Linked DNA regions of Homo sapiens. The protein of the gene in region 1 interacts with the protein of each later gene in a biochemical or structural test. Each region holds a gene or a part of one and is shown on either strand. Other genes may lie near its edges.

Evidence for each region.
Region 2: the proteins of GIPC3 (region 1) and ARHGEF16 interact in a test that uses a peptide from one of them, tested with the Homo sapiens proteins (one large-scale study listed by IntAct).
Region 3: the proteins of GIPC3 (region 1) and ABCC4 interact in a test that uses a peptide from one of them, tested with the Homo sapiens proteins (one large-scale study listed by IntAct).

What each region holds. Positions count from the first base shown.
Region 1 is NC_000019.10:3,583,957-3,587,707, forward strand, and holds the start of GIPC3 (PDZ domain-containing protein GIPC3), read left to right. Parts: upstream 1-1,521; 5' UTR 1,522-1,641; coding exon 1,642-1,866; intron 1,867-2,538; coding exon 2,539-2,724; intron 2,725-2,857; coding exon 2,858-3,038; intron 3,039-3,751.
Region 2 is NC_000001.11:3,478,616-3,481,715, forward strand, and holds the end of ARHGEF16 (rho guanine nucleotide exchange factor 16), read left to right. Parts: intron 1-901; coding exon 902-975; intron 976-1,196; coding exon 1,197-1,298; intron 1,299-1,832; coding exon 1,833-1,972; 3' UTR 1,973-2,498; downstream 2,499-3,100. UniProt on the Homo sapiens protein: Guanyl-nucleotide exchange factor of the RHOG GTPase stimulating the exchange of RHOG-associated GDP for GTP. May play a role in chemotactic cell migration by mediating the activation of RAC1 by EPHA2.
Region 3 is NC_000013.11:95,019,223-95,022,432, reverse strand, and holds the end of ABCC4 (ATP-binding cassette sub-family C member 4), read left to right. Parts: intron 1-750; coding exon 751-858; 3' UTR 859-2,598; downstream 2,599-3,210. UniProt on the Homo sapiens protein: ATP-dependent transporter of the ATP-binding cassette (ABC) family that actively extrudes physiological compounds and xenobiotics from cells.

The DNA.
Region 1 (3,751 bases):
TGCCTGTAATCCCAACTAATCAGGAGGCTGAGGCAGAAGAATCGCTTGAACCCGGGAGGCAGAGGTTGCAGTGAGCCGAGATCGTGCCACTGCACTCCAGCCTTGGCAAGAGAGAGAGACTCCGTCTCAAAAAATAAAATAAAATAAAATATCTGATATGTCAGATGGTAGCTTTAAATGCTGAAGAGAAGCTGGGCACAGTGGCTCACATCTGTAATCCTAGCACTTTGGGAGGCCAAGGCTGAAGGATGGCCTGAACCTCCTGGTCTTGAGTTTGAGACCAGCCTGGGCAACACAGTGAGATCCCAACTGTACAAAAAATTAATCATGTTTCTAAATTAAATTTTAAAAAACTGAATGCGGCCGGGTGCGGTGGTTCACGCCTGTAATCCCAGCACTTTGGGAGGCCAAGGCAGGTGGATCACCTGAGGTCAGGGGTTCGAGACAAGCCTGACCAACATGGTGAAACCCTGTCTCTACTAAAAAATACAAAAATTAGCCAGGCATGGTGGTGTGCGCCTATAATCCCAGCTACTAGGGGGGCTGAGGCAGGAGAATCGCTTGAACCCAGGAGGTGGAGGTTGCAGTGAGCCGAGATCACGCCATTGCACTCCAGCCTGGGCGACAGAGCTAGACTCCGTCTCCAAAATCAAACAAACAAACCAAAGGCTGGGCGTGGTGGCTCATGCCTGTAATCCCAGCTTTTTTGGAGGCTAAGGTGGGTGGATTCCTGAGGTCAGGAGTTCAAGACCATCCTGGCCAACATGGTGAAACCTCATCTCTATTAAAAATACAAAAAAATTAGCCGGGCATGGTGGTATATGCCTGTAATCCCAGCTACTGGGGAGGCCGAGGCATGAGAATTGCTTGAACCTGGTGGGCAGAGGTTGCAGTGAGCTGAGATCGTGCCACTGAACTCCAAACTGGGTGACAGAGCGAGACTCCAGCTCAAAATAAATAAATAAATAAAAATAATAAAATAAAATAAAACAATGACCTCGCCTAGCAGAGGGTGAGTGCTCCAGCACCCTCAGCTGTCCCTGTCCTTTTTTTTTTTTTTTTTTTTTTTTTTGCGACGGAGTCTCGCTTTGTTGCCCAGGCTGGAGTGTAATGGCGCCATCTCAGCTCACTGCCACCTCCGCCTCCCGGGTTCAAGAGATCTCAGCCTCCCGAGTAGCTGGGATTACAGGCGCCCGCCACCACGTCCGGCTGATTTTTGTATTTTTGGTAGAGACGGGGTTTCACCATGTTGGCCAGGCTAGTCTTGAACTCCTGACCTCAGGTCATCTGCCCGCTTCGGCCTCCCAAAGTGCTGGAATTACAGACGTGAGCCACCGCTCCAGGCCTGTCCCTGTCCTTATTTGTGGTCCCTGTTCTTCCAGGGTCCTGAGCTCAGGCCCCCCCGGACTGCGGGTATCCCCGGGGAGGGCACAGCTGGCCCTGGCAGGGCCCGGACACCTGGGGCCCGACCCACCCCTGCGCACCCCGCGGTGTCGCCTTCCCGGGAGGCTCGGGTTCCCAGATCCCCTTACCCGGGCGTCTCGGCTGTCGCGCCCTGGGCCGGGGGAGGGGAGGCTGCAGGAAGCGGCGGATCCGGCGGCGGCGGCGAGGGCCCGGGTGGGTGGCCGAACTTCTCCCGCCATGGAGGGAGCAGCGGCCCGGGAGGCCCGGGGGACCGAGACCCCGCGCGCGTCTGCGCCCCCGCCCGCGCCCTCGGAGCCCCCGGCCGCGCCCCGCGCCCGCCCGCGCCTCGTCTTCCGCACGCAGCTGGCGCACGGGAGCCCCACGGGCAAGATCGAGGGCTTCACCAACGTCCGCGAGCTGTACGCCAAGATCGCCGAAGCCTTCGGGATCGCGCCCACCGAGGTAAGGAGCCCGGACACCGGCGCCCAAGACCACCCGCCTGATGGGGTGAGGGGTAGGGAGCTTGGACCCTGGACGGGAGACCCCAGATCCCCGGATCCCAGACGTCGGGGTGGCCGCCTAATCGCCGGATCTCAGAGACCCAGCCCTCAGATCCCGGGGTGCCACACTCCCAGGGGCCCCCTTTGCACGCTCTGCGCAAAAGATGGGCAGGTCTTAGGACTAGCGGACCCCTAGATATTCCAGAAAATCCTCTGCGCAGACCTAGCTTGGAGCGGACCCCAGCCCTCGGGGAAGCGCCTCTGTGCTTCCTGGGCGTAGCTGGGGTCTGGGGTTCCAGATGGCCCCCTTAGGGATGGGAAGTTTGAGGCCGCCGTGGGGTTGGGGGGTTCCTGGGCGTTTTTCCAATCCGGGTTCGTTTGGTTTGCAGCCCCCAGGGGGCGCCAGCAGATTAAACCTGGAGGTCTGGGGGCTGGAGGTCCCGGGGTATGGAGAGGGGTCTCCACCTGCTGGAAGTCTCCTTCTCCCTCCTCTCTCTGTTCTGGGGGTCCCACGCCCTGCCCTTTCCCATGGGCTGGGATCCTGGTCGCTGGGGGCAGGGGCCTGCGCAGACAGGGTGGCTGCGTGGGGGGATGCATGCCCTGGCTAACTCTAGGCTCCTTCTCCCCCGGGAAGATTTTATTCTGCACCCTCAACAGCCACAAAGTGGACATGCAGAAGCTCCTGGGGGGTCAGATAGGCCTGGAGGACTTCATCTTTGCCCACGTGCGAGGCGAGACCAAGGAGGTGGAGGTCACTAAGACAGAGGATGCTCTGGGGCTGACCATCACGGACAACGGGGCTGGCTACGCCTTCATCAAGGTGCCCGGGAGGGGGTGGGCGGGTGGCTTCCTGGGGTCCAGCAACTGCCCCCCCCACTCTGGGTCGACGTGGGTTCTGCGGATTGGAGGCGGGTGGCTGGGGTTGCCCTGCCAGCGACGCTGGATCCCTGCAGAGAATCAAGGAAGGCAGTATCATCAACCGGATCGAGGCAGTGTGCGTGGGTGACAGCATCGAAGCCATCAACGACCACTCCATTGTGGGCTGCCGCCACTACGAGGTGGCCAAGATGCTCCGGGAGCTGCCCAAGTCCCAGCCCTTCACCCTGCGCCTGGTGCAGCCCAAGAGGGCCTTCGGTGAGGCGGGTGGGCTGGCGGGAGCTCTTCCCGAAGTGCGTTCTACGGATGCCTGGGGTGGAGGAGGGTCGGGGATGGGACGGGCTGGAAGGTTCTAGGTGCACCCGCTGCGTGCCAAGGAGCTCCTGGCAGGGTATCAGAAACTCGTAGGTAGTTTCTATTAATAGATTGTTATGGAGTCAGCCTGTGGGGGAGGGGTGGGGGAGAGACTGGGTAAAGTGGAGTTGGAGGAGGACGCGTCCAGAACCACTTTGGAGCCAGGCTGGGAGACTTGTTTTTGTTTGTTTGTTTGTTTGTTTGTTTTTGAGACGGAGTCTCACTCTGTTGCCTGGGCTGGAGTGCAATGGCGCGATCTCAGCTCACTGCAATCTCCACCTCCCGGGTTCAAGCGATTCTCCTGCCTCAGCCTCCCGAGTAGCTGGGACTACAGGCACCCACCATTGCGCCTGGCTAATTTTTGTATTTTTAGTAGAGACGGGGTTTCACCATCTTGACCAGTCTGGTCTCGAACTTCTGACCTCAAGTGCTCCACCCGCCTCAGTCTCCCAAAATGCTAGGATTATAGGCGTGAGCCACCGCGCGCAGCCTGGGAACTTTTAAAGCAGTGCTTTGAGGTCATGGTGGATTGTAGAGAATGAGAATATGAGAAAAAAGTTTTCTTTCTTTTCTTTTTTTTTTCCTTTCTTTTTTCTTTTCTTTTCTTTTTTTTTTTT
Region 2 (3,100 bases), on another chromosome or scaffold:
AGTGGGCTCCCGGGAGGGCTGTTCCCAGGCCACAGGCACATTAGCTCCATGGGGACCGGGTTGTCCCCCTGCCTTGCTCGCTGTTGCATGGCTGGCTCTGAACGCCCACCGTGCACCTGGCCCTGCTGTAGGTGCTGAGGTAGAGCCAGAAACAACAGAAATGGCCTTGTCCTCATGGAGTTTATGTTCCCGGGAGGGGACGCACCAACAGTTGGGCCACCAGGAGTGGGAACAAGGGAGGAAACGAGGTGGGGGGTGGGGTGCGGGGGGTGCCGTGAGGAAAGCTTAGCCCATGTGAGCAGAGGGAGGTGGGGCCGGAGTGTGGGGTTGCTCAGCAGAGGCCCCGAGGCAGGAGAGCCCTGAGGCCCCGAGGGCACAGCTGCAGGTGGACAGCAGTGATGCTGGGGTGCAGCGACCCTGGCCGGTAGGGGCCAGTTCAGACAGCAGGGTGGTCCTGGCACTCAGAATGGGAGGGGGCACTGATGGAGTCTCTGCGGGCCCCCCGTGGAAGCCAGGCACACAGGTGCGCCAGTCTCCATATTCCCTCTCAGCTCGTCTTGACTGAGGACAGCTCTGGGCCGTTTCCAGATGAGGATGCTGAGGCTGAGTCTGTCACAGCAAACGGAGGGGGCAGGGAGCTGGGGCCCAGTGCCAGGAAACGGGGTGGCCTCAGGTCCAGCAGGCTGGGGTCTGGGTGTGTGGCCACTACCCAACTCTGTGACCTGGGGCTGGGGTGACTTGGGGGTTAGCCTGCCTGGCACAGTCTGCCCAGCCACTCCTGCCCACCCCCACCACCCCCATCTCCTTGCCACGGCCCCCATGGGTGGCTGTCAGAAGTCAAGGAACATCAGACGGGCAGGATCGGTCTCCAGGCCTGGCTCATGCTGTCTCTGGTCCCCAGGAGTGACCGGGCACGGTGGATCGTGGCGCTCACACACAGTGAGAGACAGTGGCAGGGCCTCTCCAGCAAAGGAGGTGAGTGCGGGCTGGGGCCTGCAGGGCTGGCCCTCTGCCGTGGCTGGCACTTTGGCCCCCACTGTAGCCCAAGTGAGCCTGGCACCTGGCCTTGTGCTGGGGCCTGGCAGTCGGGGGATGGGGTGCCCCGGCCCCGGGGGATGTGTCTGCTGGAGGCCGTTGGGGAGTGGAGCCTGGCCCATGCCTCCCGACAGCCCTGTGATGGCCACTGCCCTATGCAGACCTGCCCCAGGTGGAGATCACCAAGGCCTTCTTCGCGAAGCAAGCAGACGAGGTCACACTGCAGCAGGCGGACGTGGTCCTGGTTCTGCAGCAGGAGGATGGTGAGTGCAGGGGCGTTGGGCACAGATGGGTGGGAACGGACAGGCGGGCGTGAGTCAGCGTCCAGCCTGGCCAGGTCCAGAGCATGCCGGGCTGCAGGCTGACCATGTGCTCACCCTCTCTCGAGGGCTTCCTCAAAGGGAGCACTCCCACATCCCCAAACCTCAGAATCAAAAGCAGGTTCATGGTCACTGTGTCCCACGTGGGGAGGAGGAGGTGTCTCTGCCCTCCCAGGGGATCCCCGCTCAGCCAGGCCCAGCACGAGCCTGCAGAGGGCAGGCAGGGCTCCTCCTCATGCCGGGCAGCGCTGTGTGGGGTGTGCTCAGCCCAGCACCCTTCTCAGTGGCGAGCACCTGAGCAGGGGCTGGGTGCCCGGTGACCATGAGCAAGGCCTCAGCAGCTGTCTGCTCTGAGCAGGAGCAGGTGGTCAGTTCTAGGAGAAGCCTGGCCCTGGTGTGCTCAGGCATAGCAGCTCAGAGGGGCCGGGGGACCCACGGCCTTCCCCTCACCTCCCTCCCACCCCTATCCGGGTTCAGGGTGGCTCTATGGCGAGAGGCTCCGGGACGGAGAGACGGGATGGTTCCCCGAGGACTTTGCCCGCTTCATCACCAGCCGTGTGGCCGTGGAGGGCAATGTCCGCAGGATGGAGCGTCTGCGGGTGGAGACGGACGTGTAGCCCTGGCGAGGCCAGCCGGCGGCAGCACAGCCTGTCTCCAATCAGCAAGTGGTCGTGCCTGGCTCTAGAGAGCGTGGGGAGCTGGTCTCAAGGACCCAGCATGGTTCCCTGGGGCTTCCCAAGAGCCTGTGGCTGTGGTGCCGGGCTCCAGACACTTCACGGAAGGAAGATCACATGTCCCCAGAGAGGCACCCCCAGGCAAGCTCGAGGGGGCCACACCGTGTCCCAGGGAGCCCAGCCTATTCCCGTTGGCTGGCTGGGCCCCTCAGCTGCTGGGCCCCACCTCCCCACTGCACCCAGGGGGCAACTCCACCTGGACTGATGGGCACAGGAGGCACCAATAGCGATTATTGGGGGCAATGCGAGGTCTCCTCCTATGCCCTTCCTACCCCTGAGTGGGACAAGAAGGGCCCTGAGTGCCCAGGAGTGCCCCACGTTCTGAGAAGGGGCCGGCCGGAGGGAGGGGACCCGGCAGGGAGATTTCGGTTTTGAGGTTTCTAAATACATTAAAGTTATTTCTTAAGAACCTGGATTTTCACAGTGACTCTGAGCCCAGGCAAAGACCGTGGCCACACATTTTCCAGGGACATACTCAGGATGCCGCGGGCCGGCACCAGGCCCCCTGTGCATGGCCCCCTTGTGTTGGGTGCCGTGTCATGTGTGGTCGCCCCAAGCTCGCCCCTGGTGTGGCCAGTCTGCCCACCGGCTGGAGCACTGGAGCAGGGCCAGCGGCCCCTGATCGTGTACTGAGAAGCCAGGGGCGGCACAGCTGCGCCTTGCAGGGCCCAGGCTGGCCAGTGGTTTAGAGGACTCCGGGATTCAGTAGAGCTTTTGGGGATCCCTCTGCAGTGTCCCCAGGGTTGGAGACAGGCCCCACCTCCCTCCCAGTTTTTCCTCCCAGCCATCTCGTCCTGGGAGCTGCAGGCAGAAGAGGCAGTCCCTGAGCCAGTCGGCTGACCTGGGGTGGCACAGCAAGAGGAGGACTGGTCCTCTCTGTCCCAGGAAGCCCCCACCAGCCCTCCTGTGTCCGACGCCAATGCCCGTTGCCTTTGTGGGCTTGGGTAATGCTGTCCTCAGGGAGGGAGCACCCAGCATACACCTGAGAATCTGCCCTGATCCTCCTGGGTC
Region 3 (3,210 bases), on another chromosome or scaffold:
TTTCATTTCCTTTATGTTCTGATTATACGTTTATCAGAAAACCTGTATCTCTTCTAGTTCAGCTAGAAATTGGTAGAATTCAGGAACTCAAAGGCTTGGCAAAGAACTGTCCTATTATTTGGTATCATCTTACATTTTAGAGAAGTTGCTTGGTTGAGTCATTGTTAAAGCTTTTGCTTCTCTTTTCATTATTGTGGGCCACTATCCACAGACCACATTTCTATAGGCCCTATAACTGCTTTGCCGCACAAATTAAACGCCGGGATGTTTCATACGTATATGCCAGCATTTCAATGCTTGTCAATCAGAGTTTATAAAATATAGGGATTACAACTTGATATTAACATCCAAATCTATTGTGCTCATTTTACGTGTGAAAATGAGAAACCCTCATGCAGACGCTAGATTTCCCAGCCTCTTTGTCACCCTGTTTTTAATTTATCTCCAGGTTTTGAGTCAGTAAAATGATTCCGCTTATCAATTTAATACAGAGATAAAACATATCTATGAATCAGAGTGATCGGAACTAAAATGGATCTACAGGTTGTTTGGCATTCAGCCCAGCCCTGCTGAGGGTTTTAGTGGGGCTAATTTCTCTGTACAGTAGATTCATCCCTGTTCTTAAATTGTGCCTCAGTGAGGGATATGATTTGCTTCACATGAAGAAGTAGACACAGAAGTGCATTGTTTCAGGGAGGAGACTTTAAAATTTTGAAACATTCTTTTTATGCTTACCTTTTTTTTTTCTAGGTATACTTCAAAAGAAATTATCCACATATTGGTCACACTGACCACATGGTTACAAACACTTCCAATGGACAGCCCTCGACCTTAACTATTTTCGAGACAGCACTGTGAATCCAACCAAAATGTCAAGTCCGTTCCGAAGGCATTTTCCACTAGTTTTTGGACTATGTAAACCACATTGTACTTTTTTTTACTTTGGCAACAAATATTTATACATACAAGATGCTAGTTCATTTGAATATTTCTCCCAACTTATCCAAGGATCTCCAGCTCTAACAAAATGGTTTATTTTTATTTAAATGTCAATAGTTGTTTTTTAAAATCCAAATCAGAGGTGCAGGCCACCAGTTAAATGCCGTCTATCAGGTTTTGTGCCTTAAGAGACTACAGAGTCAAAGCTCATTTTTAAAGGAGTAGGACAAAGTTGTCACAGGTTTTTGTTGTTGTTTTTATTGCCCCCAAAATTACATGTTAATTTCCATTTATATCAGGGATTCTATTTACTTGAAGACTGTGAAGTTGCCATTTTGTCTCATTGTTTTCTTTGACATAACTAGGATCCATTATTTCCCCTGAAGGCTTCTTGTTAGAAAATAGTACAGTTACAACCAATAGGAACAACAAAAAGAAAAAGTTTGTGACATTGTAGTAGGGAGTGTGTACCCCTTACTCCCCATCAAAAAAAAAAATGGATACATGGTTAAAGGATAGAAGGGCAATATTTTATCATATGTTCTAAAAGAGAAGGAAGAGAAAATACTACTTTCTCAAAATGGAAGCCCTTAAAGGTGCTTTGATACTGAAGGACACAAATGTGACCGTCCATCCTCCTTTAGAGTTGCATGACTTGGACACGGTAACTGTTGCAGTTTTAGACTCAGCATTGTGACACTTCCCAAGAAGGCCAAACCTCTAACCGACATTCCTGAAATACGTGGCATTATTCTTTTTTGGATTTCTCATTTATGGAAGGCTAACCCTCTGTTGACTGTAAGCCTTTTGGTTTGGGCTGTATTGAAATCCTTTCTAAATTGCATGAATAGGCTCTGCTAACGTGATGAGACAAACTGAAAATTATTGCAAGCATTGACTATAATTATGCAGTACGTTCTCAGGATGCATCCAGGGGTTCATTTTCATGAGCCTGTCCAGGTTAGTTTACTCCTGACCACTAATAGCATTGTCATTTGGGCTTTCTGTTGAATGAATCAACAAACCACAATACTTCCTGGGACCTTTTGTACTTTATTTGAACTATGAGTCTTTAATTTTTCCTGATGATGGTGGCTGTAATATGTTGAGTTCAGTTTACTAAAGGTTTTACTATTATGGTTTGAAGTGGAGTCTCATGACCTCTCAGAATAAGGTGTCACCTCCCTGAAATTGCATATATGTATATAGACATGCACACGTGTGCATTTGTTTGTATACATATATTTGTCCTTCGTATAGCAAGTTTTTTGCTCATCAGCAGAGAGCAACAGATGTTTTATTGAGTGAAGCCTTAAAAAGCACACACCACACACAGCTAACTGCCAAAATACATTGACCGTAGTAGCTGTTCAACTCCTAGTACTTAGAAATACACGTATGGTTAATGTTCAGTCCAACAAACCACACACAGTAAATGTTTATTAATAGTCATGGTTCGTATTTTAGGTGACTGAAATTGCATCAGTGATCATAATGAGGTTTGTTAAAACGATAGCTATATTCAAAATGTCTATATGTTTATTTGGACTTTTGAGGTTAAAGACAGTCATATAAACGTCCTGTTTCTGTTTTAATGTTATCATAGAATTTTTTAATGAAACTAAATTCAATTGAAATAAATGATAGTTTTCATCTCCATTCAGAGATCTGTATTTCTGTGCTTCAAGGGATTCCTGACTCATGTTCTTGCTGATGAATGCCAGTGAGTTTTCCTGAGATCGAAAAATACAGTATCAAAGGATACCTTCTATCATCAACCGGTTCTCTTGGCAAATTAGGTGTACCAAGTATTCTAACGGGTAGATTTCAGTGGGTTTCAGACAGTTTGAAGCAGTTGCTATTTAAGCAAGTCCATTTGCACCATTCTAGGAAGAAAGAGTATTAGCTTATGCCTCAGGCTTGAGCAGTATTAAATGGTTGAGGTTTTTGCTTTTGGTTTTGGTTTTTAAGGTGACTTTGTCCAAAACTAACAAGAAACATCTACCGCTGTTACGCTGAAATCACTATTAAATAATGATTCTCAAAGTGTGGTCCCTGGACCAGCAGCATACCGCATCACCTGGGAACTCGTTAGAAATGCACCTTTTTGTGCCTCACCGCAGATCTACTGAATCAGAAACTCTGGTGGTGGGGGCCAGGAATGTGTGTTTTAACAAGCCATAGGGTGACTTTTTTTAAGGGGCCATGCTAATCTCTGTATCATTACAATTTTAGTATATGTGCTACTGAAGCGAGCGCCCTAAGTGTGAT